Homo sapiens: one gene and its partners. The protein of the gene in region 2 interacts with the protein of the main gene of each other region in a biochemical or structural test. Each region holds a gene or a part of one and is shown on either strand. Other genes may lie near its edges.

Region 1 (10,892 bases), on a different chromosome or scaffold from region 2:
GATGGCGCCACCCCAGCTGTGTTATGGGTCCTGCCTCCTTCAGGAAGATCTGTGTGGCTGCCACTCCCTCCCTGACTGCCTGGTGTCCTTCTCCTGTGGCTCATCCAGAGCAGGGCCCCTGCTCACCCTCTGTCTCATCCCCACTTGCCCCCTGACTGGCACAGCCCAACAGCTGGCTGGTACAAGGGCAAGCTGGCATCTGTCCAGCTCACTGCCCACAAACCATACTAGGTCATGTTCCATTCACAGGCCTCGCCCTGGTCACAACTGCATGGCCCGCTTGCTGGAGAAAGGGCCAAGTGAGCCGAGGGACGGGCGGCCTCACCTTTCTTGGCACAGTCATGACGATGGGCTCACACTTGCGCTCATGCAGTTTGTAGAACCTGGGGATGCAAGGAGGAGCCACGGGTGGAACCCTCACCGCCCCCCCCACCCACCGCCAGCTCTCCTGGCATCCTCCACTTCCAGTCCTCACCCCAGGACCTCCGCAGGCCGACCCCTAAGGTGGCTAGACCCCCACACGGGCTGCCTCGTGACAGTTCTCATGGCCCGCCGGGCCTCCCTGGCGCAAGGTTTCCTGCTCCCAAGCAGCCTCCAATGACCTGACCTCTCACCTTAGATGCCCCTATCCCCGAGTGGCCTCGGTAGCCCTCTTACCGGGCGATCTCGCACTTGCTGACCTCCAGGCCCCGCTTGGGCATGCTGCCCATACCCCGCTGCGGCTCCTTGCTGGTGAACGTGTTCAGGAAGTGGATGTAGGGAGGCTCCTCTGTGATCTCAAAGTACCGGATGCTGGAGTCACCCTGTGTGGGGAGGGGGCTCAGCACCTGGGCACGCCTCTTCCCTGCCCCTCGCCAGCCCTGCCCAGCCCCACCTTGCCGCAGACGTAGACCACACTGGTGTCGGGGTCGTAGAAGGGCAGCAGGGCCCCGTTGCTCGAGTCCAGTTCCTGCAGGGCCATGGGTTCCTCGAGGTTTTCCTGGCACATTGCAGGCAGTCAGGCCAAGCAGAACCTCCTCACCCCCTAATCCCAAACCAGGACGGGCCTTAGCTGGCCTCACTAAGGCCAGCCAGCACTGCCCCTAAATGCAGGTGGGCCCTCTGCCATCTCTATGCCTTTTCCCACATGACGACCCCCACCTGGCCCTCCTGGCTTCACTTTATTCCCAGGGTCCCTCTTTTCCAGCCTCCTCCAGGCCTTAAGACTATGCCCAGGCCACTAAGCAAGTGCTGAAACATACCTCACTGTGGGGAGCTGGGGTGCCAGCGGCACCAGCCCCTGCTCAAGGTGCCCTGGAGGTCACTATGCAGAAGCAGAGAGGGCTGGGGCCAGGAGGCTTGCTGGAGGAGGAGGCTTTCTGGAGGAGCGGGGAGCCCTGTGCAGGCAGTGGGTGGTACAGGCAAGCAAGGGAGAGAAGGGCCCTTCCGTTGGCATGAACAACATGGGCAAAGACACAGAGGCAGTGGGAGGCCATGGGGGAGTGGTGGGGCAGTCGGGCGAGCAGGGGGCAGGAGAGGAAAGTCTGACAGAGTCCTAGGCCCTGAGAGCCTCAAGTTCCAGGCAGAGAAGCTAGGAACCACAGGCCTCCCCAGGGTGAACCCTGCCTGCCTGGCCCAGGGTGGGGCCCAAGTCTCAAGTTTGCCCCCTCAGGCTGGCCACTCACTGGGTCCCAGAGCGCCAGCTGCCGCTCGCTCATTCGGCTGAAGCCTGTGGTGAACACCTTGCCATCTGCCAGGAAGATGGCCCGCATGGGCCGGGCCCCCTCATGAGCCTTCTCCCGCTCCTGTCGGGGGGACAGGCTGGTCAGTGCAGCGCCCTGCTCAAGGTCCTGGGCCTATCCACAGCCATCCTTGCCCTCCAGAGCCACGTACTGCCACCAGGGTGCCCCGACGGGGGTCGATGATGCGCACGCTCTTGTCCTTGCATGCTGAGCAAAACAGGCTGCCATTGTGGTTCCAGCTGACATTGTAGATGAGGTCAGGGTGCAGGCTGTCCAGGCGGTACAGCTCCTCCGCTGTGCCCACATTCCAGATGAGTACCACGTTGTCGCAGCCTGGCAGGTGAGGGTTGTCAGCTCGGGCCGGGTGGGTGGCAGGAGGCCATTAGCTCACCAGGCTGAGGCCCACTCTGCCCACCACCCTGGGACAGACGGGTCTCTCCAACTCTGAGGGCCTCAGCTTTCCCATTTGTCATGTGGGCCCTGGAGGGGCTGCTGGGATGTATGGAGGGGTCCGTGGGGGGGGGGAGCACAAAACGGGGGGCGGTGCAGACCTGCACTGAGCAGCACGTTTCGGGCCGTGGGGTGCCAGGCGATGATGCCCACTCGCTTGGTGTGCCCCTCCAGTACCACCACCGGCTCTGTCAGCGGGGAGGTCAGCCCGTTCTCTGGGATCTGCCACACCTGTGGTAGGGACAGGGCCACCGAGCTCAGTCCTCTGCTGGTCCTATTGCTGGCCCCCTTCGGCCACACCCACGACCCTGGCCCAGCCAGTCCTGTGCCTCACCATGACCGTGCAGTCCTCCGAGCCGCTGGCTATGACTTCGTCGTTGTGAGGACACCAGTCGATGTCCAGGACAGGTCCCGTGTGCCCACACACCGTCGGGTAGGCCTTGTCAATGCGGCCCGTCTGTGGGCACGAGGGGGCAGTCAGTGGGCTCCATCCCTCCCGAAGCCTTGGTCTTCCCCTCCATGGAGTGGGAATGACATGCACGTCCCGGCTCACAGGTGGCCCAGATGTGACTGTGCCCCACTTGCCAGGTGAGCAGGAAATGTTTGCTGCCTCTAACCCTGCCTCTATGGCAACAGGCTACTTTCCATCTGTGCTAACACTTGGGGCGATAAATCTGGGTTATAACACCTGCCCAGCAGTGTGAGAAACGGCAAGATGAGGGATTCAAGGTGTGCAGAAAGGCCCAGTAGGGGTGGCCGAGGTGCCTCCTCTTCCCCCAACCCTGACAGGACCCACCTTGCTTAGGGGGAGCACCAGAAAGGCACCCCCTCCACTGGCCTCCACAATCACCGCCAGGAACTTGGGGTTGACGGCGCAGAAGGTGCTGTCCCAGGTAACACGGGACACGCGAATGTCCTCATAGCACTGGTCGTTCTTGACCGGCTGCCCGAACACATGCCGGAATTTGCTCTGCCGGACCACTTTGCGGAAGGACATGTCTGCGGGACAGAGAGGCCTGGGTCAGTCCGGCCCATCCCAACAACTCCAGCCCTCCCCAGGCTGCTGAAGGTGAGCCGGGAGGATGCAACCGGGGGCCAGGCCACCGTAACCCTCCTGGGTCTCGGTTTACCCAGTTACAGAATGGGGTCACAGGTGCAGAGCCTGGCCGCCTGTCACCCCGCAGGCAGTGATCTGAGAGGTAAATGCTCCGGCCCTGACCACTGCTGAGTCCTGAGGGGCTTTGCAGGACGCAGGGCCCCTCCCTGGCTCTGGTGTGTGTCGGGGGCAGGAGGTGGGAGGTGCCGGGGTTGGAGAGCTCTCAGCTCTACTGTAGGTCCCAGCCAGTCGGGAGCAGCCTCCTTCCTGCTCCCAGAGATTTGGAGGCTAGGTAATGGGGAAGAAGGAGAGAGGAAGCAGGAAAAGTCTCTCTACTGTGGGGCCGAGTGAGTGCCCAGTTCTGAGTCCCAGGGAATGTCCAGGGAGCCCCGGCATGGCCCCCAGGAAGGGACGGGGTCGGGACGCAGCTGTGGGCCGCGAAGCAACCCAGAGCGGCCTCGAATCGGGGTCCAGGGTGAACCAGGAGCCCAACTTCCAGGGACCTCCGCCCAGGAGAGGAGAGGCTGGGCGGCCAAGGGGAGTGGGACTGAGTGGGGTAGAGGGGAGGCGAAAGGCTCCTGGGACCCGCGATCCCCCCTCAGCCCCCTCAGCCCGGCCCCTGCAGCCCCGCCCAGCCCCCAGCCCGCGCCCCTAGCCCCGGCCCTGCCGCGCTCACCGGGGGCACCGGGGGCGCAGGGGGCTGCGGCACCGGCTTCGGGCGGCTCCGGATCCCGGCCTCTGGGAAGCAGGAAGCAGGATTCAGGAAGTGACAGAGGGACCCGGAGCGGGGGCGGGGCAGGGGCTCGCGGGGGCGGGGCCGAGGTCACGCGCGGAGGGGCTGGGCGGGAGGCTGAGCGGCGCCGGGGGGCCGGGAGCGGGGCCGCCGGGGACGGGGCCAGAGAGAGCCCCTTTCCTAGGACCCGGTGGAGCGCCCCCACCGCAGCTCCTCCGGAAGAAGGGGGCGGGGCGGGGCAGGGCCGACGGCGGCCGCCGCAGAGGCGCCGCAGGTGCGGGTGCAGCCTTACAGCGGACCCGAGGCCCCTTCGCGTTCTTGCTCCTCATAATGGCATCCGCAGGAGTCTCCAGGATTGGGTGAGGCCCCGCCTTCCCGGCCCCCGACGGAACGCACACCTCCAAGGGGCCCCATTACCGCCCCCAACAAATAAATGTAGAATCTACACGGACAGTGGATATGTTCACGTGACTCTTTTTAAGTTATCAAAGTTAATGCTCTTTTTTTTTTTTTTTTTTTTTTTTTGAGACGGAGTTTTTGTCACCCAGGCTGGAGTGCAGTGGCGCGATCTCGGCCCACTGCAACCTCCGCCCTCCCAGGTTCAAGAAATTCACCCCAGTAGCTGGGACTACAGGCTTATACTACCACGCCCGGCTAATTTTTTGTATGTTTAGTAGAGACGGGGTTTCACCATGTTAGCCAGGATGGTCTCGATTTCCCGACCTCGTGATCCGCCCGCCTCGGCCTCCCAAAGTGCTGGGATTACAGGCGTGAGACACCATGCCCGGCCTAAATTTCATGCTCTTGGTTAACAATGTAAAGAAAACAACAGCAGGTGTTGGGGTGGTTTTTTTTTTTTTTTTTGAGGCAAGGTCTGTCACTACCGGGCTAGAATGTAGTGCCATGATCATGGCTCACTACAGGCTCGACCTCCTAGGCTCAAGGGATCCTCCTGCCTCAGCCTCCCAAGTAGCTGGGACTACAGACACACACCACCACGCCTGGCTAATTTTTCTTTTACTTTTTGTAGAGATGGGGTCTCTTGCTCTGTCGCCCAGGCTGGTGTGTTTTTTGTTTTGTTTTGAGATGGAGTCTCGCTCTGTCTCCCAGCCTATAGTGCAATGGCGCGATCTCGGCTCACTGCAACTTCTGCCTCCCGTGTTCAAGCAATTCTCCTGCCTCAGCCTCCCAATTCGCTGGGATTACAGGTGCCTGCTACCATACCCTGCTATTTTTTTTGTATTTTTAGTAGAGATAGGGTTTCACCATGTTGGCCAGGCTGCTCTTGAACTCCCGGGCTCAAGCAATCCTCCTGCCTTAGCCTCCCAGAGTGCTGGGATTACAGTTGTGAGCCACCGTGCCCATCCAGAAAATAGCAGTGTTTATGGAGCGAGTGGAAGACCCAGGAGTCCCATTTTTCAGGGTAAACACCTGTGCATTCTGCTGAGCTTTCTTATTACAATTTGAAAGGGGGCCATGGCCAGTGAGTCCCTTGCACCTTGCCTTCTTTTCTCCACCATCTCCCTCGAAGGCCTGGAGATCCATTCACAGGCCTCTCTCTTTCTCTAGCCAGCGCCTGTGACAAGGAGCCCAGACTGGCCTCTCCAGACCCACCCCATCCCGTTCCACAGGTGGAATGTACCCCCGTTCCCTTAGGCCAGCGGCTCTGGGGCACCGGCTACTTCCCTTATTCTTTCCTTGAGCATCCACTGCCCTGGCTGACCGATGGCACCCTCCCTTTCCCAGAAAGAGATGGATGGAGGACGAAGCGGGGGAAGAGCAGAGGTCACAGGAGCCTTGTCTCTGGCTAAAAGAGGCCCCCACTGTGTGTCTGAGGGTGACCTCGGGCTTGTCTCCCATCTCATTCCCATTGCCACACCCCATTGAGGAAACAGGCACAGAGAGGTGCGGTGCCTGCCTGAGGTCATCCAGCCGGATGCAATCCCCATCGGCTTGGGTCCAAAGCCCTTGCTTTTCCTAGTGCTCTATAAACCCTGGGGCTAGAAGGATCATCTAGATCCCACCCACCTTCCTTCCCACCCCGAGGCCTGGGCACATCCTGTTCTCTCCATCTGGAAGCTCTTTCCTCAGATCCCAAAAAGGCTCCTTTCCCCACTCGATTCAGGTCTCTGGTCAGACATCACCTCCTCCTAGGGCTCTCCTGGACCATTCCTCACCCAGCCACTCTTTGGTCTTACTTGTCCTGACTGCATTGTTCTTTTTTTGGGAGACAGGGTCTTGCTCAGTTGCCCAGGCTGGAGTGCAGTGGCACGGTCCTAGCTCACTACCGCCTCACACTCTGGGGCTCAGTCCTCCCGCCTCAGCCTCCCAAGTAGCTGGGACTACAGGCACGTACCACCATGCCTAGCTAATTTTTATTTTTGTAGAGATGGAGGTCTCCTATGTTGTCCAGGCTGGTTCCAAACTCCTGGCCTCAAAAAATCCTCCTGCCTCAGCCTCCCAAAACTCTGGGATTACAGGTGTGAGCCACCACCCGGCCTGTGTTCTCCAGCGCCGCCTGATGTTGCATCAGGTGCTTATTGGTGTATTTGGTTTGTGTCGGCCTCCACCAGGATGTCAGCAAATTGAGGGGAAGGACTTTGCCTATCTTCCTACTGTATTCCCAGCACCCTGAACAAGATCCAACACTCAGTATGGGATCAAGTAATGTATGAGGAATGAATGAATGAGCAGCAGCCCTGAATGTAGAATTGAACAATACTCATAATCACAATTCTCAGGATCAATGTCTGGCACCTATGAAGGAGAGGGAAGGAAGGGCATCTCTCACCGGAGAAGGAGTGAGTCTTCCAGACGGCAGCAGGAGACTGGTCCCCTGGGATGTGGTAGGCAGGAGGTGTGTGGCTGGGCAATGTCTTGGGGCTGAGCCCACCTTCATGCCCATTTTCTCTAACACAAAACCCTCCTCCATGGACCACTGAGAGAACTCTTTTTTTTTTTTTTTTGGAGACAGAGTCTTGCTCTGTTGTACAGGCTGGAGTGCAGTGACGCGATCTCGGCTTACTGCAACGGAAACCACCTTTGCAAAACTATGACTGAGACAGTGAAAGAGATCTAACTTCACCAACCATCTTGCTTCTAATCTCTCTCTTTTTTTTTTTTTTTTTTTGAGACAGAGTCTCGCTCTGTCGCCCAGGCTGGAGTGCAGTGGTGCGATCTCGGCTCACTGCAAGCTCCGCCTGCTGGGTTCACGCCATTCTCCTGCCTCAGCCTCCCGAGTATTTGGGAATACAGGCGCCCACCACCTCACCTGGCTAATTTTTTTTGTATTTTTAATAGAGACAGGGTTTCACTGTGTTAGCCAGGATGGTCTCAATCTCCTGATCTTGTGATCAGCCCATCTCGGCCTCCCAAAGTGCTGGGATTACAGGCATGAGCCACCTCATCTGGCCCTTGCTTCTAATCTCTAAACCGTCCTTGTTCATTTCTGGGCATAGGCTGAACTAACTTTGGGAGAAACTTAGTTTATAAACAAAGATGGTAACAGCCCTTTCCCAAAGCAGACTTCCCTGTTGCCTGGGGACTAGATTGCCTTTGTAGGACTAACATTAGCCACAAGATTAGAAATTATGGTTTAGGGCCGGGCATGGTGGCTCACGCCTGTAATCCCAGCACTTTGGGAGGCCGAGGCGGGCGGACCACCTGAGGTCGGGAGTTCGAGATCACCCTGGCCAACATGGTGAAACACCGTCTCTACTAAAAAATGCAAAATTAGCTGGGTGTGGTAGCACATGCCTGTAATCCCAGCTACTCGGGAGGCTGAGGTAGGAGAATCGCTTGAACCCGGGAGGCGGAGGTTGTGGTGAGCTGAGATCACGCCATTGCATTCCAGCCTGGGGCAACAAGAGCAAAACTCTGTCTCAAAAAAACAAAACAAACAAACAAACAAAAAAGAAATTATGGTTTAGGAGTTATGCAGCTGGAGGCTATAAGATTCGGACCCTCCCTAAACTGCTCCTAAGGTCAGCGCTTGAGATATTTGCAGACCCTGCCCTTGATGGATCAGCTGGCACCACCAGATCAATCAACTGGCTCATCTGATCTTGTGGCCCCCACCCAGGAACTGACTCAGTGCAAGATGACAGCTTTGATTCCCTCTGATTTCATCCTTGACCAATCAGCACCGCTGGCTCACTGGCTTCCCACCACCCACCAAGTTATCCTTAAAAACTCAGCTCCCTGAGAATGCTCAGGGAGTCTGATTTGAGTAAGAATAAAACTGCAGTCTCCTGCACAGCCGGCTCTGCGTGAATTGGCTCTGTCTAGGCAGCAGGCAAGGCGAACCCCTCGGGGGTTTACACAACCCGCGCTTCCTGGGTTCAAGCAATTCTCCTGCCTCAGCCTCCCGAGTAGCTGGGATTACAGGCATGCGCCACCACACCCGGCAAATTTTTTGTATTTGTATAGATGAGGTTTCACCATGTTGGCCAGGCTGGCCTTGAACTCCTGACCTCAGTTGATCTGCCTGCCTTGGCTTCCTAAAGTGCTGGGATCACAGGCGTGAGCCACCGTGCCTGGCCTGAGAACTCCTCTTTATTCCGCAAAACCCTTCAGGCATTCTACCCCATCCTGTCCCACAGGTGGAGTCTGCCCCGCCTCCCTCAGGCTGGCGGCTTTGGGGTACCAGCTACCTCACTTATTCCTTTCTTGAGCATCCGCTGCTCTGGCTGACCAAGGGTGATGGTCTGCTGCTCTTTCTTCTGGACAGAAATCACGCATTATGGGTGGGATTCCCTTTGGGGTCCTTGGACGTGGGACTGGCCCACTCCCCAAGAGGTAGGGTTTGGAGTGTGGACCAGAGCTGAAAGCAAGTGGCTGATGCTGAGGTTTTATTTCCCAATCTGCCTGCCATGCTGAAAAGGCCCTGGGAGCCCTGCCCAGAAAAAGGGAGAAGGGCACTGCGGAGTGCCCTAATGGGGACCGAAGTCCAGGCCCTGCGCTCAGAGTGTGGACTGCAGTGGGATGGGGAGGGTGAGAACTTCCCTTGTGGAACAGGAGGCAGTGCCATGGTGGGGAGGCCTGGGGGGCAGGCGATCTGCCACTCAGGCGCTGGCCTGTGGCTCAGTATTGGTCCCAGGGCTGAGTGAGACCGGGGGGTGCCCACTGCTGTCATCAAATTAATGGCTAACAATCACGAACACTTCATAGGGATTCACGCTCCTGCAAGATGGGTACCATTATTATGATCCTCATTTTACAGACGAGGAAACTGAGTCCCAAAGAGGCTAAGAGCTTTGTGGAAGGTCACACAGCCTGTGAGTGGTGGAGCCAGGATTCAAACAACCCCTGATGGTCACCAGAGAGTGCACTCTTTTTTTTTTTTTTTTTTTTTTTTTTTTTAGAGACAGAGTCTTTCTGTGTGCCCAGGCTGGAGTGCAGTGGTGCGATCTCGGCTCACTGCAAGCTCCGCCTCCCAGGTTCACGCCATTCTCCTGCCTCAGCCTCCCGAGTAGCTGGAACTACAGGTGCCCACCACCACGCCCAGCTAATTTTTTTTTTTTTTGTATTTTTAGTAGAGACAGGGTTTCACCATGTTAGCCAGGATGGTCTCGATCTCCTGACCTTGTGATCTGCCTGCCTCAGGGTCCCAAAGTGCTGGGATTACAGGCGTAAGCCACTGCGCCCAGCCAAGAGGGCAAACCCTTAACCTCACCCAAGTGGCTCCAGAATGGAAGGCTGGCCAGAAAGGCATCTAGCGAGTGCCCAAGAAATACTGGATGAATGAATTCAATAAATGCATGCCTGGCCAGAAATCTCTCTCCCATGGGCCTCAGTGCCCGCAATTCCATCACTACGACTATGCTTCTGGTATCACCACCACCACCGCCCACAGCACTTCCCATCCCTGGGCTCAGTCAATGATCAGAACTGCCAAGCCTGCAAGGGGAACATGATCACTCCATTTTACAGAGGAGAAAACAGGCTGAGAGGAAGGAAGTTAGGAACCAGAACCCAGACCTGACTGTATCACTCTAGGCTGCCTGCACAGCCTGCTGCATTTGGAAAATGCAGGTGTCTCTGGGAAGGGTTGCACATCTGACATCATTGTCATTTACACCTGCCGGAAAGGGCGTCTCAGTTGCTGAAGGTCACGATACTGAGCTAATGGGATAAGGGGGCATGACTGGAACACTGGGGGTAAGGAGAACGCAGGTGGGGTGGGTGCCAGGAGAGGACGATGGGTAGGAAAAGGGAAGTGGAGTGGGGGTTGGAAGATAGACCTTCAGCACTTCTAGTTTTTTCTGCAGCATCAGCAGCTTGAGAGGGAAGAGCTGGTTCTGCCCTAGAGAAGCTGTGTGACCTCTGGGAGCCTTTGCCCTTTCTAATTTTTTTTTTTTTTTTTGAGATGGAGTCTTGCTCTGTCGCCAGGCTGGAGTGCAGTGGTACAATCCCGGCTCACTGCAACCTCTGCCTCCCGGGTTCAAGCAATTCTCCTGCCTCAGCCTCCCGAGTAGCTGGGATTACAGGTGTGCGCCGCTACGCCCAGCTAATTTTTGTACTTTTAATAGAGACGGGGTTTCACCATGTTGGCCAGGATGGTCTTGATCTTTTGACCTTGTGATCCGCCCGCCTCGGCCTCCCAAAGTGCTGGGATTACAGGCGTGAGCCACCGCGCCCGGCCGTCTTTGCCTTTGCCCTTCCTAGACCCACTGGTGCCCTGAGCTCTGTGTGCTTGGACAACTTCCTATCTGTGCACTTGGGCTCAGACAGAGGGAGGCTGTTATTCAGGCAGGATCGGGGCCCTCTGTACCTGCAGCCCCCACAAAGAATCTTGTGCAGCCCTCCACGGGAGGTGGGGAGCAGGTGGATGCTAATTGAACTTTTAAATAGAATCAGACTTTGAAGTCCCCTGCAGGCCCCCAAGGCACAG
Region 2 (10,077 bases):
CAGCAGGGCTCCATTCTTTCTGGAGGCTCTGAAAGGAGAATTCATTTTTTGGTGTTTTTCCACTTTTAGCAACTGCCTGCATTCCTTGGATTGTGGCCTCTTCCTTCACTCTAATCCCTCAGTTCCGTTGTCACATCTCTTACTACTGACTCTGACCTTCTCACCTCCCTCTTATAAGGACCCTTGTGATTACATTAGGACCTCTTGGGCCTCCTCCAGGAAAATTTCCCCATCTAAACATCCTGAGTTTAATCACATCTGTAAAACCCTCTTAGCATGCAAGGTAACATAGGCAGGGATTCTAGGGATTTGGAATATGGACATCTTTGCAGGCCATTATTCAGCCTATCAGAGCTTTATTACCTCTGAATATCATTTTGGAATGAATAATTAAGGAGAAATTACAAGTTATTTGCTTTAACAGGCAAACTACTGGCCAGGTGCAGTGGCTCACACCTGTAATCCCAGCACTTTGGGAGGCCGAGGTGGGTGGATCACTTGAGGTCAGGAGTTCGGGACCAGCCTGGCCAACATGGTGAAACCCCGTTTCTACTAAAAATACAAAAATTAGCTGGGCATGGGGGTGGGCACCTGTAATCCCAGCTACTTGGGAGGCTGAGGCAGGAGAATCACTTGAACCCAGGAAGCGGAGTTTGCAGAGAGCCAAGATCAAGCCACTGCACTCCAGCCTGGGCAACAGAGCAAGATTCCATCTCAAAAAAAAAAAAAAAGGGAACTATTACTTATAATAGTTGGTCATTAATGACAAAACCGCAATTACTTTTGCACCATTAAAAAAAAAAAAAATGACAAAAACCGCAATTACTTTTGCACCAACCTAATTTGCACCAACACTTTCTGAGGCTGTCCTGGAAGAACCTGTCTTTGCCTGAGTTCTAAAGCAGAAAAACATGGGTGAACCAGGTTCACCACTCCTTAGTTACATAACTTGGGGCCAGTGCCTTAACCACTCTGTGCATCAATTTCCTCACCCATGAAATGAGAATCACAGGGTGACAAGAATGAATGTACCTAAAGTGTCCCAACCCAGAAATGGGCCTAGGGCAGATCCACAATGCCATTGTCACTAATGCACAGGGGCTGTAGGAGCACAGAGAAGGGGTGCCTAACCCAGCCACGGGGCAAGGAAGGCTTCCTGGAGGAGGTGATCTTGGAGTATAAGTGGGGGGACAGTCACATGTTAATAAATCATGTCCCCCACACACTCACAAAGCACTTTGCATTGTGCCTTAGCAGAGAGCAAATAGCTCAATAACTCACTGTTTTTTATTAGTTACAAAAGTGAGCTGGGACTACAAGGAGGAGGTCAAAGATGATTAAATAAACTATTATATGATGAAAAATCATGATACTGATTGGAAAGGGCTCTAATGCATGGGAGAAAACTTCAGAGCTGCCTCTACTGGATTGTTCCCCTCCTCCATGCTCAGGGCTTCTTGGGACCTGCCCTGACTGAGGCCTGGGAGCTTTCACTTCCCCTTGTCCACTCCACCCCATCAGAGGCTACTGGAGTCAAGCCGACAGGCTTCCTTTTTTTTTTTTTTTTTTTTTTTTGAGACAGAGTGTCAAAAGTGGCACGATCTCAGCCCACTGCAGCCTCCACCTCCTGGTTTCAGGCGATTCTCCTGCCACAGCCTCCCGAGTAGCTGGGATTACAGGTGCACGCCACCATGCCCAGCTGAACCACAGGCCATTTTCACAAAAGGCTTTAGAATGGCCAAAGTTGTAAAAGAATCAAATAAAGACAGGATCAATAAAAGTGCTTTGCTGAGCTACACTGAAGTCTGAAGTAAGTGGAAGAATCAGTGACACAATACTGATGCCAATTTTACTTAAAAATTTGATACTTTGGCCAGGTGTGGTGGCTCATGCCGGTAATCCCAAAGCTTTGGGAGGCCAAGGTCGGGGGATTGAGTGCCTCCAGGAGTTTGAAACCAGCCTGGGCAACATAGCAACACCCAGTTTCTGGCAAAAATAAAGTCAGCCAGGCGTGGTGGTGTACACCTGTAGTCTCAGGTACTCCGGAGGCAGAGGCAGGAGGATGGCTTGAGCCCAGAGTTCAAGGCTGAAGTGAGCTAGGATTGCACCACTACACCCAGTCCTGGGTGACAGAATGAGACCTTGGCTCTTAAAAAATTTTTGTAAATATTTTGACCAGGTGCAGTGGCTCACACCTGTAATCCCAGCATTTTGGGAGGCCGAGGCAGGCAGATCACTGATTTCAGGAATTTGAGACCAGCCTGGCCAACATGGTGAAACCCCATCTCTACTAAAAATACAAAAATTAGCCGGTCATGGTGGTGGGGGTCTGTAATCCCAGCTACTCGGGAGGCTGAGGCAGGAGAACTGCTTGAACCCAAGAGGCAGAGATTGTGCCACACTGCACTCCAGCCTGGGCAACAGAGCAAGACTCTGTCTCAATTAAAAAAAAAAAAAAAAAGCAAATTTTAAAAATATTTTATTCATCATGGATTTGGCATTAATTTTGATTTTCTAAAATATTGCATTAAAATACTATTTATCTTAATCATTGAGTTTTTGGGGGCACCCTCTTACATTTTGCACCCTCACGCTGGTCCCAGCCTGATTCCTGAGGCTTTTCTTAGGGACCGTTCCTGGCTCTACGGTAATGGGACAAGACAGAGAGATGGACCCATTATGATAAGGCAGACTGACACTTGCTGTGTGTTTAAGGGTAGGGTGAGGGCTACGAGATCCTGGAAATGACACTGCTTAAGGGGCAGGGAAAGCTTTTTGGAGGTGATTTCTAGCAAGAGTTAGTTGTGGGGAAGAAAAGGGCTCTCAGCTCTAAGAGGAAGTGAGAAGGGGTGGAGACTGCCTCCAAAAAAGTTGGGGTGAGTGGAAAAGCAGGCCGGCCAGAGCAGGGGGATTAGGATTGGGGGCCACGGACGGGTACCAGGATCAGATCTAGGTAGGAATTTCTTGGTGAAGAGGCCATTGCATTTGTATAGGCAGTAGTTCTCAGACTGTCGTCCCCAGACAGAAGCATCAGCATTGCCTGTGAATTTGTTAGACGTGCAAATTTTCCAGCCCTACAGCAAACCTTGTGAATTCGAAACTCTGGGAGGTGGGGTCTAGCAATCTGTATTTTCTCCAGGGGATTCTCAAACTCTCAAATTTGAAAACTAATGTAAGAGAGACATAAAAGAAAAATAAATCATAATGAAACAACATGCATTACAATGTGGAAATGCTCAGCCACTACTCCCTTAGAGGACACAGGGGCATCTCAGAAGCATGGGCCTGCCAATAATCAATGTGCTTGGATTTGAGAAATAAAATATTCTCTACTCAACTGAATTTTGTCCACAATTTTCCCTTATATTTGACATTTAAGTACCTATGACTGTCTGTCTACCTAGAGTGCAGCTACAGTTGTGGGCACCTTGTGTGGGATGCTCTAATATTAGCAGAGGCGTTGCCATCCATTACCTCCTTTTCCCTAAGGATGGATGAACAACTCTTGACAAAACTCTCAAGCAAAACAAAGTGTATTTTCCCTTCCTTTCCCTCCCCTCCCCTCCTCTCCCCTCCCCTCCCCTCCCCTCCCCTCCTCTCCCCTCCCCTCCTCTCCCCTCCCCTCCTCTCCCCTCCTCTCCCCTCCCCTCCCCTCCCCTCCTCTCCCCTCCCCTCCTCTCCCCTCCCCTCCTCTCCCCTCCTCTCCCCTCCTCTCCCCTCCCCTCCCCTCCCTTCCCTTCTCTCTTTCTCTCTGTCTTGCTGTGTCACACAGGCTGGAGTGCAGTGGCACGATCTCAGATTGCTGCAACCTCTGCCTCCCGGGTTCAAGTGATTCTCCTGCCTCAGCCTCCTGAGTAGCTGAGATTATAGGTGCCCGCCACCATGCCTGGCTAATTTTTTGTATTTTTAGGAGAGACAGGGTTTCAACATAGTCACCTTTCTGAAAATTCAGTAAAAAATACCAGGCTAGCCATGGTGGCTTCTGTCTGTAATCCCAGCACTTTGGAAGGCGGAAGCAGGAGGATTGCCTGGGCAACATAGTTAAACTTTTTTTTTAAAGGAGCTGGGTGTGGTGGTGTGTACCCGTTGTACTCAGGAGACTGAAGCAGGAGGATGATTTGAGCCTGGGAGATGGAGGCTGCAGTGAGCTATGATTGTGACATTGCACTTCAGCCTGGGTGACGGGAGTGAGACCCTGTTTCAGAAAAAAAGTGAGAGAAAGAGAGGAAGGAAGGAAGGAAGGCAGGAAGGAAGGAAGGAAGGAAGGAAGGAAGGAAGGAAGACTAGTGTTGATGCATGAAATGGAGTTAGGTTCTGGCTTCAAATTACTATAAATGGGTTTTTCACCCAGGAAACATTTTGTGGGAATGGAGCAATTCTTGTTGGGGAGACTGTCCAGTGCATTGGAAGACATTTAGCATCCAAGGCTCTTGCACTCTAAATGCCAGGAGCTCTCCCCCTCCATCAGCAAGACAACCACAAACATTCCCACAAATCCCCTCTTAGAAACGCTCCGTAGAAGCTACAGTGCCCCCCACTAGAATCACCTTTGAGATGAATCGTGCTGAGACCCTGTGAATAACATGGAGGAGGTCACAGCCCCAGGACAGAGGGAGGGACGGGGAAGAATCCAGGAGGCTGCGTGGGTTTCCTGTTGGGCAGTAAGACAAATTTGCTAAGCTGCGGGGCAGGCTGGGACCACTGCGTTTGCGAGTGCTTGTGCAACATGCAGAGGTTGGGGGTGGGAGCCGGGAGATGAGATTTTGGCTAAAAGAAAAGTTTCCTACTACTAAGTCAAGCCAGAATTGCCTTCTTGGTATCTTATTCCATGTTCCCCTCTCCATCCCCATAACTGGTCACCTCTCCCCGGGACAACAGCAGCAGCCTCCTCCCTGGTCTCCCTCAGCCCTCTGCCCCGTGGTCCCTCATCCACGCAGCAGCCGGAGCGATCTTTCCAGAGAGGATGGAGACTCCAGCCATTCCTCCCCTCTTCCCTTCCCTGAGTGCTGGCCTCCGGTTGACAAACTTCTTCCTGCTTCAGGGCACGCTGATCCCCCCTGCTTGGAGAGCTGTCTCTCTGTTCTTTCACCTGTTAATCCTGCTTATGCTCAAGCCCAAGCCTCAGAATAAAGCTCTTCTGGGAAGCCTTCCCTGACCTCCAAGGAGTTGGCTGGGTTTCAGAACACCCAGAAAGAATTCATTGAAAAAGATTAGCAAAATACTTTTTTAAAAACGTGCCTAATAACTTGATTAACCTCTGCAAAATCAGGCGAATCTATTTTGCTTACTGTTTTTGTTTTTTGTTTTTTGTTTTTTTGAGACCGAGTCTCGCTCTGTCGCCCAGGCTGGAGTGCAGTGGCGCGATCTCAGCTCATTGCAACCTCCGCCTCCCAGATTCAAGCGATTCTCTTGCCTCAGCCTCCCGAGTAGCTGGGACTACAGGCGCGCACCACTGCGCCCAGCTAATTTTTGTCTTTTTAGTAGAGACGGGGTTTCACCATGTTGGCCAGGATGGTCTCGATCTCTTGACCTCGTAATCCGCCCGCCTCAGCCTCCCAAAGTGCTGGGATTACAGGCGTGAGCCACCGCGCCCGGCCCCAGGACGTCTTTTATTTCCTGGTCGCTGTACAGTCCTGTCTGCACGGTCGCCGGGCCTCAGTTTCCCCAGGCAGAGCAGCGGGCAGGGCCCCTGGGGCGTACGGGCTCCGGGCGGCGCGCGCGCCCCCGAGTCCCAGGCCTGATAGCGGGGCGCGCGGGCGGGGGCGCGTGTGTCGGGCGCGCGAGGGACGTGATCGACCAGCCGAGGCCTCGGGCAGCCCTCAGGGCCCCCGCGCACGCGCGCCTCCTCGTCCCGCCCTGCCCGCTTCCCCGCCCACTCCGCGCACTGAGGCCTGCGCGCGCCGGCGCGGGAGGCGGGAGCTGGGGGCGGGGGCGGTGGCGACGCCGAGGGGGAGGGGCGGGCCCGGCCCGGCTCGGCCCGGCCGCCCGCGCGCGGCTCCAGGAGGCCCCGGGCCCGGCCCGGGCGGCGGTGGCGGTGGCGGCTCTAGCTCGAGACGTCTGTGGCGCCCTCGCACCGCGCCGCAGCCATGGCCCTGGTGACCCTGCAGCGCTCGCCCACGCCCAGCGCCGCCTCCTCCTCGGCCAGCAACAGCGAGGTGAGCCCCGGGCTCGCCGCGCCCGGCCTGGGCCGCCGGACGCCGCGCCGAGGCCGCCGGAGCTGGGGCCGCGCGTGCGGGGCAGGGGGGCGGCTGCGCGGGCTCCTCGGGGCCCCGCCGTAGGAACAGAGCCGGGCAGCCGGACCGGGGTGACCGTGCGAGGACTGTGTGCGATGTGACCCTGTCTTGGGGAGCTGTGCGGGGACTTTGTGTGCGGTGTGACCCCTATCGGGGGGCGACTTTGCAGGGACTGTGTATGCAGTGCGACCCCTCTGGGAGTGTCTGCAGGATACTGTGTGTGCGCTGTGACCCACATCAGGGGGTTACCCCCATCTTGGGGTGACCCCTGTTAGGCGGAGACTGTGTGCGTTGTGACCCCTAAGGGTGACTGTGCAGAGACTGTGTGTGCAGATGTGACCTCGTGATTGTGTGGGGACTGTGATTTCAGGTGTGACCCCCATCTTGGGTTGACCTCTGTCTGGGGAGGACTGTGCGTCTGTCGGGACTCCCATTTGTGAGTGACTCTGCAGTGTGACCAGGGTCCAGGGGTGACTGGATGTGCAACTGGGACCCTTGATTGGGTGACTGCGTGAGCCGCTGGTTCTGAGACCTGTGGCCGGGGTAGTTCTAGGCCCTTTGCCTGTATGCCTGGCTGTGCGATGTGAGATGTGACTGTTGCTGACCTGCCGTCCGGGGACTGTGCCAGCGTGAGACAGGCATCTGGGAGTGCCCCTACAAACGTGTGAGATTGTTTCCCCGCCTGCCGCCTCTGGAGTTCTGTCTGTAGGCGTGCCCGTGTCACTGTGTGACGGTGACCGAGCGTGCTGTGGGCTCTGTGTGGCTGTGTTTCACGTCTGTGCGTGCAGCCTTAGTCTGGCTTTTCCTTTCTGTAACATCACTCAGGCCTGTGTGTTTATGTGCATCTATCTTTCTGTGTGGCTGTGACCCATTCTGGGTGATTGCATAGGTGCATTCCTGGGTTGCGTGTCCTGGCACTGTGCGCGTTTTTGTGGGTCTGTGTGTGGCCCAGGTCCGTTTGCCTGGCCACTTTTTCCTCTGGGGTTGATTGAGGGCACTGTTGCCCTCTTAGCCTGCAGGGTTGGCCTGGCTTGTCCTAGGCTGGGGCCTTGGGCCTCTGAGCAGGTCAGCCCTCTGTAGCTGCAGGGATGACCCTCTGGTCGCGCAATCTTGCCCACCATCTCTTGAAGAACCCGTCAAGGCCTCTGGTCTAAACTCTTACCTATAACAAGGCTGAGTGTCCGCCTGCAGACCCTTAGCTGTGTTTAGAGAAGACTGGAGGAGCGGCCCTGCGGTCCCAGGCCCAGGAAGTTCCGCAGCCAGCATCTGGGCTCTTCAGCCCCTTTCTTTGTGGGAGGGAGTGGGGGAAGTTGACTGATAACACGGGGGAGGTTTGTGTGTCTGAGAGAGACAAGAGAATAATGTTTGCATTTGGCTTGACAGCCCTGTCTCCTGGTAGGGTAGTTCTTCAGCCTTGTTTTGCTGGGATTGGCAGGGACATTTTCAGAGTGGCTGGGAAGTTGAACCTTCACAGCCCCCTCCTTGGAGAGGAGAGGCCATTCATGAGTTATCTATACACAGAAGGTTCTAGTAATCCCCCTCTACACGCTGATTAGAGGCAAAAGAACACTGGCGATCAATAGCCTGCTACTGAGAAGTTAGGTTGCAGGAGCGCCTTTCCTTCCCACAGCGAGGAGGGGCTGTTTTCTGTTCCGGTCACTGCTGTCTGGCAATTTATGCACTTAATCTCAGGTTCTCATCACAAAAGTTTATGTGAGGTAAGGGGAGAGGTTGGCTTCAGGCTGAACCTGTCAGCCCAGATTTCTGATTCAAAACCCCATGTTCCTAGAGTTACTTGCAACCTAATCTGTTCTTGTCTTACGCATTTTAAGGTCTTATTATTTTTTAGTTACATACCATAAATTTGCCATTTTAAAGTGTACAATTCAGTGGTTTTTAGTATATACATGAGATTGTGCAACCACCACCATCTAATTCCAGAACATTTTCATCCTCCCCAAAATAGGAACCCTGTACCCGTTAGCCCTCACCTGCAGCCTCCCCCTGCCCCATTCTCCCTAACCTTAGGCAACCACTAATCTACTTTCTGTATCTATGGATTTGCTTATTCTGGACATTTTATATAAATGGAATCACACCCTGTGTGGCCTTTTGTGTCTGGCTTCTTTGACTCAGCATCACGTTTTCAAAGTTCATGCATATTGTAGCATGTGGCAGTACTTCATTCCTTTTCATGGCTGTATAATACTCCATTGTATGGATGTACCACATTTTGTTGGACATTTGTGTTGTGTCTACTAGATACATTTTCAATTATTATATAAAGCATTATTTTTACCAAGTGCCAATGACCCTGATAAACATAAAGTAAAACTCAGGCAGCTTTTATTTGATCATAGCAAAGCTGCAGCATTCATTGCTTGGCTTTGAATGCGCTGGGATGTTTCCCGAAGGCAAGGCCCTCGTTCAGATGTGTTGAGGTGAGAAGCAAGGTGGGATGGAGACAGCAAGTGTGTATGGGGTCAGGAGACCTAGGCCAGGCCGGTTCTGCCCTGGTCCGCCCTCGCTTGAGTTGCTTCCTGTGTGTGGGCCCTGGCTCATCTAAAAGGACTGAATTACCTCTTTCATGTGTTCCTTGGCAGATGTAGTTTCCCTGGAATAACTGACCTGAGATGGCCTTTCATCTGAGAACCTCAGAGAGTGACCGAGAGTTAAATGATTGTGAAGTCCGTACCCCCAAGTCACGTCATCACTCTTCAAATTGCAACTTCATAATGAGTCAGACACTTAGGGCAGTGCTTTCCTGACACAGCCAGGCCTGCTGCCGGCGTGGGAAACGGGGGATCACAGCCCTCAGTCCTAAGGCTCTCTTTTCTCTTTTAATTTTCTTTTTTTCCCAGTCTTTGATTATGTCACTTATGTCATTTTCCTGTGAATCTTATCTCAGTTCCTTTGTGTGAACAGGCAGAGCACAAGAATAGATAAATCAATAATTTTCAGGAATGGATCATAACATTGTTATTTCTGAGAAACATTCAAAGTGACTAATTTTCATGGGCAGATCTCCAGGCACTTTTTTGGATTGGACCAGAGTTTCTCAACCCACTGTTGATACTTGGGACCAGAACATTCTCTCTTGTGGGGGGACCATCCTGTGTGTTGTGGGATCCTGTCCTCTACCCACTAGGTGCCAGTAGTGACCTCCAGAAAAATGCCTCCAGACATCTTCCAATGTCTCCTGTTGAGAGAACTTGCTCCGCATTGAGAACCACTGGGTTAGACCCCAACATACTCTTTGTCAATTTGTTGCTCTTGTGACTTGTTTTGTGGTCATTGAAGCCTTCCCTGCTCTTTCCACTTCTCCTTCAGTGTGGGGTAGGTGCCTCTGCAGAATCTTGTATGTACTTCATCTTAATATGATGTAGGGACTCCCAGGCCCTCTGGTGTACGCTTTTTTTTTTTTTTTGAAACGAAGTATTGCTCTTTCACCAGGCTGGAGTGCAGTGGTGCAATCTCGGCTCACTGCAACCTCCGCCTCCTGGGTTCAAGTGATTCTCCTGCCTCAGCCTCCCAGGTAGCTGGGATTACAGGTACATGTCACCGTGCCTGGCTAATTTTTGTATTTTTAGTAGAGACAGCGTGTCACCTTGTTGGCTAGGCTGGTCTCGAACTCCTGACCTCAGGTGATCCGCCCACCTCGGCCTCCTGCAGTGCTGGGATTCCAGGTGTGAGCCACTGCGCCGGGCTGGTGTACTCATTCTTGGTTGAAGTTGCCACCTCCTGGTGGGTGTCCCTTGCTGCCCAGGCCCCTCCCTACATTATCTCTGGACCCTTTTTCCTTCGCCCTTGGCTCCTGCCTCATTTCTGTCCTCGATCAGCCCTG
Region 3 (10,238 bases), on a different chromosome or scaffold from region 2:
CCCTCACCAGCCATAATGCCATTACTGTCCCTTCCAGCTGCAGTCCAGCTGGAACCCAGTCTAGAGCCCGTTCTCAATTTCAGAAATGCCCCAAATCACGAAGAAGTGATGCGTGTTGGGCATATTCAGTCTCTGGTGGTCCGAAGGGCAATTATAGTCAAGAAACAAGTTGCACTTGCTGTGCCTGCGGCAGCCGGTACTCTGCAGAAAGGAAACCACCAAACCAAACCTATTATCCAAGTCACTGTGTCCACTGTTTTTGCAGAGTAATATTATCTGAGATAACTTCACAGTCAAGCTCTGATTGAATTGTTAGCAATGGCTTTATTTGCTGCTTTGTCAGGGCAAGAGAGTAACCGCTAGATGAGACTAAGTCAGCTTTCCACAAACATATTTTTGCAGTGTGTTAGCATTTGTGAAGAGGTAAACGTATTTTCTGGAAACAGAGTATACTTGCAGTTTTGTTCCTGACCAACAGTAGACCAATCAGCTGAGGTCTGAACCCTAATTATGTACCAGAATCGCCTTGAGTGCTTGTTAGCACAATTCTTGGGCCTCAGGAATCCACTGAGACTTTCTCAAAAGTTCCCCTAGAGACTAACTACTAGCATTTTATTCAATTTCTGGAGTGAGTTCTGGATGCTTACATCACATCCCTTTGTACTGTTTGAAATCCTTCCCACAGAAGACACCTCACACACGCACAACAGTGCCACACTTAAGCCAACACCACAGGAAAAATCTCCTTCTAAAACTCCTTGACCAAATATCTTGCTTTACCTACATGGCTGACTTTTGAGTACGGCAGTCTTGGGCTTATGGCACTTCCCTGGAGGCCTGTTAATCACAATCACTAGCAGGACACAGTGGCTCACACCTGTAATCACAGCACTTTAGGAGGCCAAGGCAGGAGGCTTGCTGGAGCCCAAGAGTTCAAGGATGCAGTGAGTTATGATTGCACCACTGCACTCTAGCCTGGGGGAAAGAGTGAGACCCTGTCTCAAAAAACAAAACCCACACTAAAAGCATTGCTACAAAGTAAAGAAACAAGCAATTCAGGATGAATGACAAGCAGCCAGCACTATTTTCTAGACAATTCCAAAATATTTTGATTAAAGCATAATCTTGTCTCACAAACACCTGGCATGTGGATCAACATTAAAATGTTCCCCACCCTAGACTGCACTTAAACCTAGTGGCATAGCCTACTACACACCTAGGCTGTATGGTAGAGCCTATTACTCCTAGACCACAAACCTGGACAGCACGTTACTATACTGAATACTGTCGGCAACTGTAACACAATGGTATTTGTGTATCTAATTACAGTAGAAAATACATTATAATTGTATGGGACCACCATAGTATATGCAGTCTTTGACATGTAATAATGCACAGCTGTGTATCAAAATGCTAACCATGTGATGGCATGTGGTAGGACAATGTATAATTTCCCTTTTCTCTATTTTCTAAATTTTAAATGTGAATTTATAATTTTGTATAATATTTATTACACTTATAGTGTAATAAACATTGAAAACGTTCCCAACTTTTACACCAACTTTCTTATTCACCAGAGGGAGTTGTGACTTTTTTTTTTTTTTTTGAGACAAGGTCTTGCTCTGTCATCCAGGCTGGAGTACAGTGGCACGATCTCAGCTCACCTCCTGGGCTCAAGTGATCCTCCCACCTCAGCATCCAAAGTAGCTGGGACTACTGACGTGCACCACCACACCCGGCTAATTTTGTTTATTTTTAGTAGATGAGATCCCACTATGTTGCCCACGCTGATTGTCAAACTCCTGGCCTCAAACTATCCTCTTGCCTCGGCCTCCCAAAATGCTGGGATTACAGGAGTGAGCCACCACACTCAGCCAACCTTAACTCTTAATTATTGGAAATACCCAAACCTCAATGCCTTACCCCATATGGAAGGCAAAATCCTGTATTCCCAATTCACACATGAAAATTACACGAGAGGTAAGTCAAAAATGCTTCCTTTATTACATAAAGCCAATACTGCTACTTCTAAGTTCAACTGTTTGTGCATCTCTATATCGTTCAAAGTGTTACGCCCGTGATATTAACAATGACCGCTTCCAAGTGTCAGTGAACAGTGGCTCCCTGTGAGTGTCATCATGGTACCTCTCCCCATTGCACACAAGTCAACAAACTGCTCTAGAAAGTTAAGTTCTCCCAGGCCCAGAGTAAACATATACTCAATATTCTTCCATACTTTATTATACCATAAGAAGCAAACTTCTGAAGGAGATACAATTAAAGATACCACAGGTGTCCTAGCTTGTCAATATTCTGTTTTATCATTTTCATTAACAAAGCAGATTACAATGTAGCCCTAATTTGCATTATAATTAGTTGTTACAAGACACTGCACATTCTCCTGAAGACACACAATGATTTCCAAGATGCCAGGTCACTCTTCCAATCAGTGAATGGCGAGCTCACTGGCAGGTGCAGGGCTACTTCCTGTATTCCAATGATGTGCCTGAAATAGCGCTTTGCAAGATGAGCGTGGATTATGTGGACACAATTTTGAGGCAATCTCCATTACACATTTGGTAGAAGACTGCCTAACTTAATCTTACTATTAGTGTATTAGTGTTGTTATATTATGAAGACATATTATATTCCATTATTCTGCTTAGCTCAAGGAAGAATAAAGAATTTGGACCAAAATTATAACCAGATTATGAGCAATTTCCTAAGCAAAAGAAACAAAGTAAATGCTGAGGTTAATAAAGATGTAATAATTCTCTTCACATGGCCTTTACTGTTTGTGAACTGTGTAATTTAAAATCCTGAGCTTAACAAAAATCTTTATAAATCAACTCATCAAAACAGGCATTTGGCCAATAAGAATTTAATTTCACATCAATAAAACTTTAGACTTTAGATTTATTTAGGGCTGTTTGCATATGTTTATAGAATAGTTTACTCTAAAAGATGACAAGACAGCTCCCCCTCAGTGAGACCCTGGCCTAAATATATTTGCTTTATTTATATAGCAAGAGGATAACATTAAACATGGAAGCTTTCAATTTGTGGCACTGAATAATCTACACAGGGCATCCTTCAAAGGCTACAATTAAGGATCCACCTAACTTTTCAGCAATACAAGCCCGATTGAGATCTTCTGGTCCATTTGCTTGACATTCATGTTTTATGCCTAGAGAGAAAAAACAACACTTCTATTTACAATTATGGCAGCAGTTTACCTCTTTCTCTAAGATAACCAAACTTTTAAAAGACCAGTTCTAATCTGGATAAACTGGGGTATATACAAACACGGAATACTACACAGTAACGAGAAAAAATAATTGTAACTACATGCATCAAGATAGATGGGCCTCACAAACAGCATTCACTGAAAGAATCCAGATTTAAAATGCATATATTCTATTATATATATAGGTATAGCATACAAAATCAGCCCACGCTAACTTACGCTGTTAGAAGCCAGGGTGCTGGCTACTTTGAGGAGGAAGGGGCAGGCAGAAGTGCTATGAATTGAAGGGAACAGCACCAGGGAGGCTTCTGGGGTGCTGGTCATTAGATTAAGAAATAACCATTATGTTCACTCTGAAAAATTCAACACATTCTACAATAATTTGTGACATACACTTTTCTAAAGATATGTTGTACTTTGCTAAAAAGCTAAAAGGCAGGTCTAGTAAGAAAATTTTCTTGGTTTTTAAAACATAAAAATACAAATGATTTTTGATTGCACAGTTGATTTTGTCAACTGTATTGAAAAGTAAACAGCTGGCTCTTCAATGGTATTACACTACACATTTATGAAATCGATCACAATGAAAACTATGTGAAATATGTTACTGATTGCTTTCTTAGAACAATTACACTACCACAATGCAAAAACGAGCTCAATTATGGATTACATACAGTAGCTTCTCTGTAAATGGCCACTGTCTTTTAAATAGCTGCATGGTTATTCCCATCATTTAAAGACCATTATTTCTCAAGCTGCTGAAAGCACAGCAGGTCAGCTTTTGAACTACTCAGGACTGATCTGAGAAAGACAGTGGATGCTTTCATTAGAAAAAAGGCAGCATGGTCACTATCTTTTTTTTTTTTTTGAGACAGAGTTTTGCTCTTATTGCCCTGGCTGGAGTGCAATGGTGCGATCTCAGCTCACTGCAACCTCTGCCTCTTGGGTTCAAGCATTCTTCCTGCTTCAGCCTCCCAAGTAGCTGGGATTACAGGCATGTGCCACCACGCCCGGCTAATTTTTTTTTTGTATTTTTAGTAGAGACAGGGTTTCACCATGTTGGTCAGGCTGGTCTCGAACTCCTGACCTCAGGTGATCCACCTGTCTTAGCCTCCCAAAGTGCTGGGATTACAGGCATGAGCCACCACACCCAGCCGGCCACTATCTTTTAGTATCACCAAATCAAGTGTGCAAAGCAATTCCCTTTACTGAAAGGCAATGCAGAATAAAGATAATAAGGAATCCACTGTGAACCTTTTGGTTGGGCTGGGAAAGTGTTGAAGCTAAAGGATTTAAAAGTGTCAGTTAGCAACCCAGTGACACACTTCTGGGGGTTGCCAAACATCAAACCAAATGCACGAAGAACCTGACCCAGCAATAAACTATGCAGCAGCAAGGCTCGGGAAAGGAAGCAAGAATTTTTTTTTCCGAACTAAGTAAAACAGGCTAGGGCAAACCTGTTCTACCATGAAAATATAAAAACCAGTGACAGTAAAACAAACAAAACAAAATCAACATCAGGCCAAGCCCTTGTGACCTTGGCTCACTCAGCTGTTTGGAAACAGCCATGGCAGGAAGGTGGCAGGGCAAACTCTTAAACTAAAACTCACACATGAGACCAAGTCTCCCCTTCTACAGCTGAGAGAATCAAGGCCCATGGAGGTTAAGCAGTTCTGGCCAAGGCCACACAGCAGTTAGACAGGCTTCGCCCTCAGTGCAGGCCTTTGGGCACTTGCCCCATGCACGTTCTTTCCATCATACCAACATTTTCTCCTGGCTGAAGTCTGGCCAGGCCATCTCATCAGGATCCCAATCACCCAGTGGCAAGTCAAATACAACTGACCAGCTCAGGAGTGGGTGCACTTTCCTTGGGACACAGATGAATTAATTACCTAAAATCATGCCATTCAACAGTAAAGCTGGAGAAAAGAGCATCCTTTCTCATTTAGGTACATTTCCTTTTTGCAACTTTATTATAACAACTACATTCAAAGGCAAGAGCAAATTTACTATTATGTCCAATGTTAAACAATCAGTCTCCACCTCCTACATGAGAAAACTGGTAGCACCTCAAACTAGTTTAAAACCAGCCTGAATAAACGATATATATAGACAATGTCAAGGGTATAGTTATTAAACACAGGCTGGGCAGACCCAGAGCAACCAGCACAAAGCAGAAGATACATGGAAAGTCAAATTCAGTCTTCTGCTTTTCTCAAAACAAGTAACACTTCTCCCTTGTGCCCGAAGCTCTGCAAAAAAATAAGGTGCTTCTCAGAAAAGGTGCTGCCCCATTCTGAGTGTTCACCATACCTCTACATATTCAGAGGTCATCTAGAACATACCTTGAAATTTCTTTTTAATTGCATCCTTGGAGCTTGCATAGATCATTTTACTTTTCAGAGGTGCTAGTTCTGGTGCCCTAGATAGAAAGATGCCAAAAATGAAAAAAGTGGTTTAGAGAAAGTATAACTTGCAACTTGTTAAACATTTGCTTGTGTAAACATTTGCTGAGAATCCTCAGACTCTCCTGAGATATTTTTTCTTAACTGCACATTTTTTCTACCTCCCCAGCAGCTCAGAGAGGAAATGCTACAGATAGGCATATGCAGAATCACTCAGGTTGACCAGGGTGGGAAAAAAGAAGAGAACCACTGGTGGCAAAAGACAATCACCAATTAAAAATCAGATTACAGTCGCCATAATGAAAGAACCAACACTGAGTACTTCACTGTATAACCCAATTCTTTTTCTTCAGAATATTTTTCATTATTATTAATAAGGGATTGGATTCAGGCTAATATTTACACAAGGTTTTTGACAGTTTTTCTAGTTGGAAAAAAGTTTTAAAATACATAAAAGTACAGAGAATAATCCGTAAGTACGTGTGACCCAGAATTAAATGCTAATATTTTGGCACCTTTGCTTCAGATTGTTTTCTAAAAAAGAATAAATCAAAAACTTAAAAAAAAGGACAAAAAAGAATAAATTACAAATAAAAGTCCTTTTCTTAGACTTCCCCAGTCCCTTCATCTATTCCAATAGCAGGTTTTGATCCCACAGGTACTTGTTTTCTTAGTCTAACATAACAATACATGTTTAATTACAGATCTGGGCATCCACGTTTCAATAATTCTCTGGAAAAAAATATTAAATCCACTTGTATAATCTCATGATTCTAAAGATTTCTAAATGGCAACTCACCAATAATTATGTCTTAACTGTCAATATTATTACTATCTTTTTATATTTATAACATTGGAGCACGTTCTCCCTCTTGAAGGGAAGCGTGTTAGAAGCACAGCATATGTGTCACAGCACCTTCAGCAGCAACACTGAAGAATAAGGATGATTAGTAACGGACAGAAACCCTCCCACTCAGACTGCTTGCACGGAGGTCCTTCTTTCCTCTGTACGCCAACCCATAGGCCCACCTCCATGCCACACTGCTAAAATATCACAGAGAAGATGCAGTACAGTAAGTCCACACTTAACATTGTCAATCAGTTCTTGGAGCCTGTGACTTAAAACAAAATGACATATACCAAAACCAGTATTTTTTTTTCTCAATGTTATAACAAAACTACATTGAAAGAAATGACGTTATTTGAGGACCTGGTGTATGTTGTTTTGCTTAAAGCTGTAGTTTCCAAGAGCCTACTGGAGGTCATTAAGATATTACGGTATAGCTAAATACTTCTGAGCATTTAATAATTCCATTTAGCTGCCATATTTCCAGGACATTCAACAGCCATGAGCACTGGCATGTGGACCTCACCTAGTGTACCCCTTACCCTAGTGAGCAGAGATTCCATTCTTGGGAAAAAGGGCAGTCTGTCTCTCAGAGGCTTATTCCTCCCAATCCTAAGGTCCAGGGAAGGAGGCAGAGCCATCACAACCTCAGGACTGGCAGATGTTTGAGCTACAGGGTGGGTACTTTTTATTTTTTATTTTTTTGAGGCGGAGTCTCGCTCTGTCACCCAGGCTGGAGTGCAGTGGCGTGATCTCAGCTCACTGCAACCTCTGCCTCCCAGATTCAAGCGATTCTCCTGCCTCAGCCTCCCGAGTAGCTGGAACTGCAGGCGTGTGCCACTATGCCCAGTTAATTTTAGTAGAGATGGGGTTGCACCATGTTGGTTGGCCAGGATGGTCTCGATCTCTTGACCTCGTGATCTGCCCACCTCCACCTCCCAAAGTGCTGAGATTACAGGCATGAGTCACTGCGCCCAGCAGAGTGGGTACTTTTGTTATGAAAATAGGTCAGAAACATAAAAAAGCATCAGCTGTTCTGCTTTTATTCTAACCAAATTGTTAAACTACTTTAAGAGCTGCTCCCTGGGCCATGGGCGGAGCTTGTTATAGAAAATGCCTTTAATAAGGTTCTACCTTTTCTTAAGTAACAGTGTAACAGTGCAAAATAAACCACTGCACTAACACTAAATTTCCTTTTCTTCTATTATTTTCCACATTTAAAAAAATAAGAATGCATACTTTTCATAATTACAAAATACATAAAAAGCAGAAAAAATACCTGCAAATTAAGGAAATACCGACCAATTTAAAAGCCTAAACCATTAGCTGGCCTGTCTGCCACTCAGCTGTGAATGCCAGAAGAGGAAGGACTTAACCTGTTTTATTCACAGCTGTTTTCCCAGGCCCTCGCACAATAGCTGGCGTGTAGTAGAAATAAAGTTCAGTAAATGCACCTTCATTCAAATCCTTGTTAATTTTCAGTCTTATGTACCAGCTTCAATGGACTCTAAGCTGCCTGAATACGTGCACCCTGACCTCATATTTGCATTCCTCACAGCAACTTGGTTTAATCAAGTGCAGTAAAAGCTTACTGAAATACAAGTGAGGTGTGACCTCGAGTTATCTTCCTTTTTAAACCACAATCCTCTGCATCTCCTACTCCCATATCCCTTTTACACTCCAAGCTATTGATGGCACATAGCTAAAAGCTAAGTCCCTCCCTGCCTTGCCCTGACTCAGGCCAAAGTATCAAGAGAATCCTTGCCCCTCTAAAAAAAAAAAAAAGAAAAAAATCAGGTAGTGTTACCATTTCTCCCTCCCCTTAGAAACTAAAGAATTCTACTCCTGGCCATATCAAGGAATGCAGTATAATATTCAATAAATGAGGGATCCAGGTGTAACTTTTTTCTAAAGCTTCATCTCAAATACCGACTTGCCTGAAAAGACCAGAATAACTAAACAACATTTCAAGAAAAAGGCCATAAAAATAACTTTATAGCCCTGTTTCACTATCTAAGAGTAACACTGCCCAACAGAGTTTTCTGCAATGATGGAAATGTTCTGTATCTGTGCTACTCAATAAGGTGGCCACTAGTCAGATGTGGCTACTGAGCATTTGAAATGTGGTAATTCATTCAGCTAACAAACTGAATTTTTAATTTTAAATAATTTAAATAGCCACATGTGGCTAGTGACTACACTACTAAACAGTGCAACTGTAGAGCAAATTATAGCAGGGAGGGAATGGTACCAATTTCTTCAAAAGTAGTAGACCACAGAGGCACAAGGAAGGGGTGTAATTTAAAAGAGTAGATAGAAGGCTGGTTCCTGGCATGGCTCGTTGGAAAAGTAGGGTTTTGGCTTATAAGTAAGAAAGTTAAAAGTAGTAGGAAATTTTAGCCTATAAAAGCAGTACATTCAGAGGATGCCTCCTGTCCTTTCCCCATTGAAAAAAAAAACAAAAACGGAGAGTCACATAACAAGTAGATAGAAAATAGTCAAAATTTAGTTTGGGTCCCATAAACATCAGCCCTGGTAACATTATGAAACCTGTAAATAAAAATTAAATGACAACAACTGCAAATAGTTTGAATAAAAATTACTTTGGTGCTGGAACTGGTCTTCCCGAGTGCTAACAAAATGAGTTTTACAGAGGCTCAATATTTCTAACATGCTTACCACAAAAAAAACATCAACTCTTCTTTTCTGGATTCTTTTGTTTCAAAGCTTGCATCATACAAAGCATAGCGACAATCTTTTTCAGGAAGCATTCCCACAAAATGCTTGAAAGGATCAGTTATGGTTACACCAACATCTCCAACCAAGATCTCTTTGCCTTCTTCTACAATGATGCACTTTTTGTCTGCACTGAGACAAAAAATGACAGCCTTCTTTCTTTTCTTGATTTCTTCTGGTGTGGAGCATTTACGAACTTTCATGTCATAAAAAATGCGACATACTTCATCAGCTACTTGCACTCCTGAGGCCTATGATGAGAAAATACATGAGAAAAAGACTTACAATTTTTATTGTGCCAAACATAAAATAATAAATTCTGCTTATAGATTGGCATATATTTAACATTTTAAAGGTATATCATCTAATTAAAAAACTAGAAATTTGAGCTGTAATCACTACTAATTTTAGACATCAAACTTTTTAAAAGATCACAAATATATGCCATTCCTCACTACTGCACAGGGGTAAGGAAACATTCAACTATAGCAGCCTCTCCTACCCTAGAACCTTAAAAGAAGTGTTTCCTAAGGTGCTGGGTTATTTTCTTCTTATACAGGTTGCTTAGAGCCTTGACTACAGGCAGATCATCTTCCCAGTGTGTATATTCATGATACCTAAAATTCCTTTTGTAATACACAGTAGCTGGTCATAGCTGCTAGACTGGGAAATTTCCATCCCTACAGCATCTCTTTCTCTAATAAAAAAAAAGATTTATTAAGAGGTCTTTGCTCTACTCACATTTCAAAATTATGTGATCAATATTCAGTATTAGTCACACTTGCCATTAAAATTTCACTTAAAAATTCCAAATTTTAAACTAAGATTAGAATAAATAAGAAAATGTCTACTGCTATAATAAAGAGGGTAGCTTAATTAGGGATTATACTGACCAGAAAAATTACCTTTCGCTATGTTATACTTGCTATTCTGGGCTGAAGGACAGTTAAACAAAATCTTGATAGCACAAGATCTTAAACCAGTTTTTAATTTTTTCATCTTG

The links.
Region 1: of the proteins of SSH1 (region 2) and CORO1B, one has a biochemical effect on the other in vitro, tested with the Homo sapiens proteins (one study listed by IntAct).
Region 3: of the proteins of SSH1 (region 2) and DSTN, one has a biochemical effect on the other in vitro, tested with the Homo sapiens proteins (one study listed by BioGRID).

The regions. Positions count from the first base shown.
Region 1 is NC_000011.10:67,439,461-67,450,352, forward strand, and holds the start of CORO1B (coronin-1B), read right to left. Parts: upstream 4,017-10,892; 5' UTR 3,944-4,016; intron 3,171-3,943; 5' UTR 3,169-3,170; coding exon 2,968-3,168; intron 2,629-2,967; coding exon 2,506-2,628; intron 2,403-2,505; coding exon 2,273-2,402; intron 2,055-2,272; coding exon 1,873-2,054; intron 1,785-1,872; coding exon 1,665-1,784; intron 980-1,664; coding exon 875-979; intron 804-874; coding exon 658-803; intron 384-657; coding exon 326-383; intron 1-325. UniProt on the Homo sapiens protein: Regulates leading edge dynamics and cell motility in fibroblasts. May be involved in cytokinesis and signal transduction.
Region 2 is NC_000012.12:108,853,506-108,863,582, reverse strand, and holds the start of SSH1 (protein phosphatase Slingshot homolog 1), read left to right. Parts: upstream 1-5,999; 5' UTR 6,000-6,086; coding exon 6,087-6,155; intron 6,156-6,288; exon of another isoform or gene 6,289-10,077. UniProt on the Homo sapiens protein: Protein phosphatase which regulates actin filament dynamics. Dephosphorylates and activates the actin binding/depolymerizing factor cofilin, which subsequently binds to actin filaments and stimulates their disassembly.
Region 3 is NC_000020.11:17,599,986-17,610,223, reverse strand, and holds the end of DSTN (destrin), read right to left. Parts: intron 9,487-10,238; coding exon 9,179-9,486; intron 5,670-9,178; coding exon 5,593-5,669; intron 3,188-5,592; coding exon 3,078-3,187; 3' UTR 305-3,077; downstream 1-304. UniProt on the Homo sapiens protein: Actin-depolymerizing protein. Severs actin filaments (F-actin) and binds to actin monomers (G-actin). Acts in a pH-independent manner.